Linked DNA regions of Homo sapiens: region 2 is linked to region 1. The links come from fine-mapping of genetic effects on gene expression. A gene starts in region 1. The other region holds a variant in brackets. All regions are shown on one strand. Distances are between the middles of the regions. Region 1 holds the start of BCO2 (beta-carotene oxygenase 2). Region 2 overlaps BCO2 (beta-carotene oxygenase 2).

What was found. PIP is the estimated chance that this variant, and not a neighbour inherited with it, causes the effect.
Region 2: its variant is fine-mapped to the expression of BCO2 in left ventricle (GTEx, PIP 0.92).

What each region holds. Positions count from the first base shown.
Region 1 is chr11:112,172,738-112,178,127 of GRCh38, forward strand. It overlaps BCO2 (beta-carotene oxygenase 2), which reads left to right and starts at 2,775. Exons shown (of 12, transcript NM_031938.7): 1 at 2,775-2,952. The coding sequence starts at 2,865. RefSeq lists a silencer at 5,136-5,302.
Region 2 is chr11:112,208,469-112,213,858 of GRCh38, forward strand. BCO2 (beta-carotene oxygenase 2) reads left to right here. Exons shown (of 12, transcript NM_031938.7): 9 at 5,256-5,390. It also overlaps the pseudogene MRPS36P4. Among named protein-coding and RNA genes, the nearest start is that of PTS, 15 kb to the right of the region's middle. The variant A/C (reference allele first, on the strand shown) is at 2,017.

The DNA of each region.
Region 1 (5,390 bases):
GAAATTGAATTTGGACTGGAGGATCTATACTACTCATCTAGCTAAAAAAATTATCCCTTTAATGTGAAGTACTGCTATGATTTTACTGAAAACTTTCTATGTTATATATTACTATATGGGATAGCTATATTAACCAGATTTTTAAACAAAATAGCACCCATTTTTCAATCATATAGGCAGTTCAGTTTATTACATGTATATTTTTCCAATATAAGCAGTCAGAAAATTGCAAATAGTACTACAGGGAATTGTTATTCCTAAGGGAGACTGCACATTTGCCTTGCTGCCTTCTAAACTCTAAAATAAAATCTCATTTTATCACATTACTATTTTAAGGCATAAACACCACATGATGTAAATACTCATATAAGAAAAGATGACAAAAGTGAAATAAAATAATACTTGCTAAAGAAAATTGGTTAAGTGGAAAAAATTATTGGGTTGATAGAGGTGGTGGCACAGAATAGGTTGGAGGTCAACAAAGTAATTATTAGAAATGAATTTTTTTCTTTTTTGCCACTTGCAGTGGCTCCCATTTCTAATCCTAGCTACTTGAGAGACTGAAGTGGGAGGATGGCTTGAGCCCAGGAATCCGAAGCTGCCGTGAGCTATGATTGCATCACTGCACTCTAGCCTGGGTGACAGAGTGACACTCTCTCTAAAAAAAGAAGGAAAGGAAATTTTTTCAATTTTTTCTTTCTTTCCTTTGCTTTTTTTTTTTGAGACAGAATCTTGCTCTGTTACCTAGGCTGAAGTGCAGTGGTGCGATCTTGGCTCACTACAACCTTTGCCTCTTGGGTTCAAGTGATTCTCCTGCCTCGGCCTCCTGAGTAGCTGGGATTACAGGCGCCTGCCACCACACCCGGCTAATTTTTGTATTTTTAGTAGAGACGGGGTTTTGCCATGTTGGCCAGGCTGGTCTCGAACTCCTGACCTCAGGTGACCCACCCACCTCAGCCTCCCAAAATGCTGAGATTACAGGCATGAGCCACTCGCCCGGCCAAAAGGAAATTTTTTAAAACTAAATACAACAAGAAGATTTGTGAGTTAATACGACATGTCATCTGGATTTCGACCTACCATCATTAAGAAATGTTCTTTTTCTAAGCATTTATTACTAATATGAAAAATAAGGCCAACAGATTGTTTGAGACTAGATTTCATAATATACTTGTTATATCCTGATGGTATCACCATTGTTTAACATCTAGTTCTTCCCTTTGCAGGTTCAGTAAATTGATTTGATCATTTCATTTGATATGATTAAGACTGGAGAACTGATTTTAAGTCACAATGTGTTTACTGTTCAGCACTGTTCAGAATTGTTATACCTTGTAGTATAAAGGTGCCTGAAAGCCTAATCATGAAGGCTTATTTATTTATTTTTTTATTGATCATTCTTGGGTGTCGAAGGCTTATTTTTTAAATCAAATTTGGATGGCTTTGGTACCATCCACGTAGACAAGAGTAATTATCTTGGCCAGGCATGGTGGCTCACACCTGTAATCCCAGCAGTTTGAAAGGCTGAGGCAGGCAGATCACTTGAGGTCAAGAGTTCGAGACCAGCCTGGCCAACGTGGCAAAACCCTGTCTCTAATAAAAATTAAAAAAAGTAGCTGGGTATGGTGGCGTACACCTGTAGTCCCAGCTACTCAGGAGGCTGAGATAGGAGAATCACTTGAACCCGGGACACAGAGGTTGCAGTGAACCGAGATTGTGCCACTCTACTCCAGCCTGGGTGACAGAGTGAGACTCTGTCTCAGAAAATAATAATAATTATTATTATCTCACAACTGGAGAAATGCTATTGCAGGAATACTATTGCCCTTTAATTTACACTTCTAATGTTACTCTTTACTATTTCAATAAAATATCACAAATTTATAAGTTATTTTTCATTGATTACTAATCAAAATATATACCGAACTATCTTCGTACTCTGCTATATGTATTAAGACACTCCCTTCTGACAATTTTAACCACTTCTTTCTTGAAATACAATTTTGCTAGGAAAACATGATATGTTAATGTTAAAAGCAACTCTGTGGCAGTGCTGTGGGAGTTACTAGAAGACCTTTTGGTAAGGGAGTCAGAGAGGTAGATTTTAAATTGGATTTTTGAAAAGGAAAGGGGATATTTCAGGCAGGGGAAAAGTTTCTTCAGTGGCACAGAAGAACAAACGTATCATGGTATGTTAGTCACTTTGCTGGGATGATAATTCATGAAGGGGAATAGTGTATGGTCTAAACTGGAGAGCAGGGACAATCTTGTTTCTTGGTATTCTTACTTTGTAGCACAGTATTTGCTACATTGGTGCTAAAAATGTTAATAAAGTCATATACATTTTAAGGGCATACTTTCACTCATGCTAGATTGTCAGAAAATGTTCTGTAAAATTAATGAATAGAAAAGAAAAGGAAGGATGAAGTGATTTAAAGGCAGAGAAAAAGGATGAAAGGTAAATTGTTGCCAGATTGTAGCGTCCTCTAGTGGCAGTCTAAATTCGGACTTTATTCTGTGTCGGAATCTTCCAGAAGAGGAGTGGCATAAAAAAATTGATGCTGTGCATCAGGATAAACGGACTTAACTGTAGTGTGAGAACAGGTTTGAAAAAGAAAAGTTTAGGGCGGGGGAGACCACTATTGGTGGTCTAATTTTAATATTTCAAACAGCTGCGTATTATAGCTAGGGTGTTTGGACGGTTGTCATGGAAATAAGCCCCGCCCCTTAAGCTGCGTCCTCTCTTTGACCTGTCAGTGAGGGAGGGACAGTCCAGGCAGTTCTGTGCGTGTTCACTGTTTAGTAGTACTCAAAACTGCCAGTGTGAGAGGATTTGGAAATCACTGGATCTGCTCAATACAAAAATGTTTTTTCGAGTCTTTCTCCATTTTATCAGGAGTCATTCTGCCACTGCAGTGGATTTCCTTCCTGTGATGGTGCACCGGCTCCCAGGTAGAGGGTTTGCCCCTTTCTCTTCCTCATCCTCCTCTTCTTGCCAGTCTGCGCTTAGAATTCTGTGCCTCTTTCCTGAAGGTTGCTGGGAGCTTCTGAAGCTTTGTGTCCTGTGTGGCTCAGATGAGATAGCAATTCCGCAGAGTCCTGGAAGTTAAAGAAGGCTGAGTTAGGATTGTTTCCTCATGGTCAGGGAAACAGCCTTCACATTTGTATATTTTATGCAATATTTAAGGCAGGATTCAGGGACTTGGTATTCTTTGGGATTTGCAATAAGAAGAATATTCAATATTTAGGCTTTTCTAAATTGAAAAATCACTGCCACACGTTCTAATGTAATTGTTTGGTTTCTCTATTTGCATTTTGCGGGGACTGCCTTAAAACTCATTTATGTTTTATAGCCTTCTATTATAGTTACCATTGTTACATGATTTTATGTATAGAAATTGGCTGATCTAGAGCTTTCAGAAATCATACTAATATGCACTATAAATTTTAAAATTACTTAATGTAGTAATTTAATGTTTGCAGTATGCAAGGGAATGTATTACGTACTGGAAGGAGAGAGGAGACAAACACCAGACCCTGTACTCAAGGAGTACTGGTAGTATCATTTATCATACAAGACAGATAAGATAAGGTCCATATGAGAGCTATAAACAGATGCTGTGAGTTCAGACTAAGGAGAATCAGTTCTTGCTGTAGGTAAGGGGAATGCTGTGTTTATAAAGCAAATGACATGGCAACTGGATCTTGAAGGATGAGTTAGGTGAGTAAATTTCATCTGAAGGAGTTGGGAAATATCCTAGATGAAGAAAATTGATTGGCGGGGGGGGGGGAATTAAACATTCTATTTTGACATGTTGAAAGTCACCTGCAAGAAGTAATTGATGAAATTAAGAGACTAGATGAGATTGCCAAGGGAGAGTGCTGAGATTAAAGATCCAAGGTAGGACCTTAGGAACATTCATGAAGTGGTAAGGGGGATAAGGAGCCCATAAAGGGAATTAACATTTGGAAAGCATCCACTATCTTTATATTTGATTATGACAACAGACATAAACAGGAAGTATTAACCTCCTTTTATTTCCATTTTATCATGGAAAAACCTGAGGCTCAGAGACATTAAGTAACTTGCCCAAGGTTGTCAGCTAATAAGTAATAAAACTAGCAGAATGCAGAGAGTAGTTATAGGGCAGCAGGAAAGTTAGAATAGGACAATGTCTCAGAAGCTACGAATAGAAAGGAGTTTAAGAAAGTGTTAATGTCAAATTCTATGGAAACTTTGAAGAGCATGTAGCAGATTACCAGTAGCATGCAATAGAGTATACAACATATAGACATGTAAATATTTTCTACAATGTAAAATGCTTTAAATTTGTGTATCTCTACTTAGACAAATGCCCAATCAGGCCATTCAATTTACTTAAAAAAGTAAGATGAGTAAAATTACATACCTGACCTTAGGGAATTTATTTTAATCTGAGAATAAGATAAATGGTGCATAATGTTAATAAAAGTAGAGTAACATAAATACCTGAGAGTTTCCTTCTCTATCTTTTCAAAGCATCCTCTTTGTACTTCTGATACTGTAGTTCCCAGATTTTAGTATGCTTAAGAATACCTGCTTGTCCTTCCCCAGAGATTCTGATTTATTAGGACCAGAATGGAGTCCAGGAAACTGCATTTTAGCAGTAACACCAGGTATTTCTGTTGCAAGTAGTCCTCATACCAGACTCTGAGAAACAATGCTGAAATAAAACACAGTGTCAGTGATCTGTTTACTAGGCAGTCAGTTCTTTTATTTCAGGATTCTAATGCTTTTTATTCTCAGCAGTACCAAGTACTTCGTCAACTGAATAAAATAAAGGAGATATTACACCTTATTGGACTGATCATTAAAAGCTATGTAAATATAATAATAGCATTTTTTGAGTATTCTGTTCTAAAAGCTTTACATAAACTAACTCATTTATTACTTATAGCCTTAGAAGTAATATGAATTATCATCATCACCATCTTAGAAAAGAGGAAACAGACCACAGAGAGGTGATAAGTGCCTTTCTCAAGCCTTCTTATTTAGGAGAGGGCATATTTGAAACCAACCAGTCTGGAGCCAGGTAGAGCCCCAGCTCACACCCTTAAATATTACACTGTGCTGCCTCTTAAGGGAAGTACTGTAACACTGGAGATAGACCTTGACCAATTAATGGAATTTGCTTTTTTTTTTTTTTTTGAGACGAAGTTTCGCTCTTGTTGCCCAGGCTGGAGTGCAGTGCTGCGATCTCGGCTCACTGCAACCTTTGTCTCCTGGGTTCAATGCGATTCTCCTGCCTCAGCTCCTGAGTAGCTGGGATTACAGGGGTCGGCCAACACACCCGGCTATTTTTTTTTTTTGTATTTTTAGTAAAGATGGGCTTTCATTATGTTGGCCAGAC
Region 2 (5,390 bases), 36 kb after region 1:
ATAAGTGATGATAATGGCATCCTTAACTTGTTCCCAATCTGAGAGGCAAAGCTTGCAGCATTTTACCATGAAGCATGCTGTGGCTGTAGATTAAAAAAATATAATAGAAACTGTCCCTTCTCGGGGGTCATGATGGGCAGCAAGATGCATCTGCTAGCAGTGTCGTTCAGGTAGTCAAGCCACATGCTCCATTAATAAGCTTCCCTGCTGGAAGAGACAATCCTAAACCCAATGTACCAGAAGCTCTGAGATCAGCAGGGCAACCATCTCACGATTCTGCAATTTCCCAGCATTCTAAGGGAAGTAAATTACTGGATTTGTGGATGTACCAGACACTGCAGAAGTAATGAAAACATTACCTCAGAAATATAGAAGTAAACTTGTGTCTCAAGAAGAAATTGAATTTGTCCATTGTGGAGATCCAGAATAATCACTGTGGCTGCTGTTTGTCATCAGACAAAAGAATTACCTTTACAATAAAGGACTTCCAAAAAAAAATAGACTGTTTTTTAGAGCAATTTTACTTTTAAAGAAAAATCAAGCAGAAAGTATGGAGAGTTTCCATATTTCCCTCTCCTGCTAATGGTACATTTGTTACAACTGATGAATCAATGTAGGAGTGTTACATTATTACTAACTAAAGTCCATACTTTACATGATGGTTAGGTCTGTGTTGTACAGTTCTACCGGTTTTGAAAAATGCATAATGTCATGTATCTACCAATATCATACAGAATAGTTCACTGCCCTGAAAATCTCCCTGTGCTCCCCCATTCGTCCCTTCCCCTTTCCTCCTCTCAGCCCCTGGAAACCACTGATCTTTTCACTATTTCTGTAGTTTTGACTTTTCCAGAATGTCACATAGTTGGAATCATACAGTATGTAGACTTTTCAGACTGACTTTTTTCACTTAGCAATATGCATTTAAGGTTCCTCTGTGTCTTTTGTGGCTTGAGAACTCATTTCTTTTTATCGCTGAAATGTGTATTCATTCATTTATTGAAGGACATCTTGGTTGGTTCCAATTCTTGGCAATTATGAATAAAGCTGTTATAAATATTTGTTAGCACGTTTTGTGTGGACAACTTTTTAAAAAGATACATTTTATTAGATTAGGAGAGTTCCCTTTTACTCCTAGTTTACTGAGATTTTTTGTCATGAATGGATGTTGGACTTTATCAACTGTTTTTTTTCTGCACTATTGAGATAATCATATAACGTTTATCCTTTATTCTGTGAACATGGTGAAGTACATTGACTGATTCTTTAAAAAATGTTCATAACAGCCATTGATTGATTTTTGAATGTTAAGCTACCCTTCCATTCCTGAAGTAAATCCCAATTGGTCGCATTTTATTTGCTTTTAAATATATTGCAGGATTTGCTTTGTTACTATTTTGTTTAGAATTCTTTGTATCTATGTTCATGAATAAAATTGCCCTTTAATTTTTTTCTTTTCTATAATGTTCTTACTAGGTTTTGGTTTTGTGGTTTTTCTAGTCTCATACAATGAGTTGGGAATTGTTCTCTGTTTTCCTTCTTTCTGGATGATATTGTATAGGATTGATATTATTTCTTAAATATTTGGAATAATTCAACAGTAAAGCCTTCCAGACTTGAAAATTTCCTTATAGGCAGATCTACAGTTCTAGAATATTGATTTGGTTCTCTTTTCCAATTTATAGTTCTCTACCACAATTCTCAGTTTAAAATAATTTCCTTAAACATATTTAGAATAGTTAAAGTCTGATAACTAGTATCTGGATCTTCTGTGATTCTGTTTCTGTTATCTGTTGTTTATTTTGGTTTTTAATCATGTTGCCTTGTCTTTTCATGTGCTGGTTATTTCCTTTCATTTGCAGAATATTGTGTTTTAAAAATTGTGGAAATATTTTGAGACACAAGATGATGTTATTTTCCTCTAGAGAAGAATTTCACTTGCTTATATAATTTGAAGCAGGATTCAGTCCATGCAAGAGCTGGACTATTTCTTGTTTATTCTTATTCATAGGGTAC[A/C]GACCTATGAGGTCCCAACCCAAAGGACTAGAGGTTTACTAGGCCTTCCTCTTCTTGGAAAATCGTAAATTCAAACTTTTGTCACTCTAGCCCTCAAAACTATTGAAAAGCCCTTCTCTTTAAGGTTAAGGGGTAAGTGAGTTGCTATGGCTATACCCTTATCAAAAAGTAGCGTGAAGGATCCTTGTGGTGATGGATCTGTTCTGTATCTTGAGTGGCGTGGTGGGTACATGAATTTACACATGATAAAATAGCATAGAACTAAATACACGCACACACACACACACACACACACACACGAATGCATGTTAAACTAGAATAAGGTTGGTGGATTGTATCAATGTAAATTTCCCAGTTGTGATATTATATTATAATTATGCAAGACATTCCTACTGGCAAAAAAGGATGACGAATATATGGGAAATCTCTGTATTATTTCTTTTTTTATGGTGTAGAAAGTATATATATATAACATTAAATTTACCATTTTAACCATTTTAGGTGTTCAATTCAGTGGCATTAAGTAAATTCACAATGTTGTGCAACATCACCACTATCCATTTCCAGAACATTTTCATCATCTCAAACAGAAACTCTGTACCCATTAAACAATAATTCCCTGTTCCCCCCACCTCCAGTCCCTGGTAACCTCTATTCTACTTTCTGTTTCTATGAATTTGCCTATTTTAGGTACTTCATGTAAGTGGGGTCATACAATACTTGTCCTTTTGTGTCTGGCTTATTTCACTTAGCATAATGTTTTCAAAGTTCATCTATGTTGTAGCATGTATCAGAATTGCATTCCCTTTTAAGGTTAAATAATATTCGATTGTATACACACACACACACACACACACACACACACACAATATTTGTTTATTCATCTGTTGATGGATACTTGGGTTGTTTCCATCTTTGGAGTATTATGAATAATGCTGCTATGAACATTGGCATACAAATATCCAAATTCCTTTTTTTAGTTCTTTTAGGTATATATCTAGAAGTGGAATTGCTAGATCATGTAATTCTGTGTTTAACTTTTTGAGGAACAACCAAACTATTTTTCTACGGTGGCCACAGCATTTTTCTACCATCAGCAATGCACAAGAGTTCCAGTTCTTCACGTTTTTACCAACATTTGTTATTTTCTGGGTTTTAAAAAAATAATAACCATCCTAATGGGTGTGAAGTGATATCTCATTGTGGTTTTGATTTGCATTTTCCTAATGACTAATGATGTTGAGCATATGTTTAAGTAGTTAGGGAAAAACTTGCCCCAGTATCCAGTTGGTTTCTGTGGGTTTCCTTTTCATCCCAAACCTGGCCCCTTTGTTCTTCACTGTCTTTTTAGCTCACCAGTGCCTTCAGGCAGCTGTTTTAAACATTTTGTCCATAATTTCTAGTTGTTTTCAATGGGGTAGTTGATCCATATAATGTAATCTACCATTATTTGAAGCGTCTTTTGGGTTAGCTATGGTTTTGCAAGAGAAAACAATTGTAAATATAATTAAAAGTCATTTTTAAAAAGTTGGTAACTTCTGAAGCCATGGTGACCTTTTATAAAAAAAAAAGCTAATAACTTTATGAATCTTAAGAATAGCACTAAATCTTTACTCACTAAAAATATTTCTGCATGCTACAGAGATCATATAGACTAGGTATATGGGAGGAAATGGTGCAGTTTGTTCTCCATCCTACAGTATTTCAGAGAGGAAAATGGGCTTAAAGCACTTACTGTCAGGAAAAACACACTTACTTTATTTGGGTCTCCTGCTTAAACATCATCTCTATGGAGAAGCTGTGTTGGGAGTTCCCAGGATCACCCCTAGGTTTGATAATTCATTAGGAGGATTCATAAGACTCAAAATAGGTCAGGCGAGGTAGCTCACGCCTGTAATTCCAGCACTTTGGGAGCCCAAGGCAGGAGGACTGCTTGAGCCCAGGAGTTCGAGACAAGCCTGGGCAACATAGTGAGATACCATCTTTATTAAAAATTTTTAAAAAGACTCTATATAGTCATACTCATGACTCATGATTACAGTAAAAGGATACAAAGCAAAATAAGCAAAAGGAAAAGGCACATGAGATGAAGTCTAGAGGAAACCAGGTACATGCTTCCAAGAGTCCTTTCCCAGTAGAGTCACAATGGACATGCTTAATTCCTCCAGGAACTAGTGACAACATGTGTAAAATGTTGTCTGCCAAAGAAACCCACCCAAGCCTGCTTGTCCAGGGTTTTTATTGGGGATGAATCATATAAGCATAAAACCCCTACATGATGACCCTCAGTTACTGATGTTCCAGATCCTCAAGGGAATGGAGGTGTTCATTATAAATCACATTGTTAGCATAAACTATCTGGACAAACTACTGCAGAGTCACTTAAGGACTGGCACATGCAAGAACACTCTTATCAGACAGAACATCCCAAGAGCTCAGTTCCCAGCAACCAGCCCAAGGTCAGTCATGAAAACAAGTCTTTCTTGAAATAGTGCAGGGTTTGAGCAACCCAGGCTTACTAAGTTGATCCTTTTCCACACAGAGGTCTACCTGATCAAATCTGAAGAAGGAAAGCACCCTTTGTTACTCTCTAGTTTCTTACTCTTTGTTATATAATCATTTGTTTATTTGATGCTAATTAAATAACTTTTTTTTTTTTTTTTTTTTTTTTTTTTTGTGACGGAGTTTCACTCTTGTTGCCCAGGCTGGAGTGCAATGGCATGATCTCGGCTCACCGCAACTTCCACCTTCCAGGTTCAAGTGATTCTCCTGCCCCAGCCTCCCGAGTAGCTGGGATTAGAGGCATGAGCCACCATGCCCGGCTAATTTTGTATTTTTAGTAAAGACAGGGTTTCTCCATGTTGGTCAGGCTGGTCTTGAACTCTAGACCTCAGGTGATCCGCCTGCCTTGGCCTCCCAAAGTGCTGGGATTACAGGAATGAGCCACCGCACCTGGCCACAAATATTTTATAATTTTTAAATTTCTTTATTATCATTCCTCCACTAGAATATAAATTATATGAGGCCAAAGACTTTGCTTTATTCATGACTGTATCTCCAGTGTCTAAAACTGCTTGGGCTATAGTAGGTACTCAACAAATATTAAGTAGATGAATGAATGGAAATTATCATTTATTTAAATATTTAGGAATGCCAATGATGTTGACTGGATCTAAATTATTGGGACATACTGTTACCATATGAATGACAATTTTCATCTCTTTCTTCTTCCCAAACAGGTCCATAATTCAGCAGCCAAATCTTTCCCTCGAAGGTTTGTTTTGCCTTTAAATGTCAGTTTGAATGCCCCTGAGGGAGACAACCTGAGTCCATTGTCCTATACTTCAGCCAGTGCTGTGAAACAGGCTGATGGA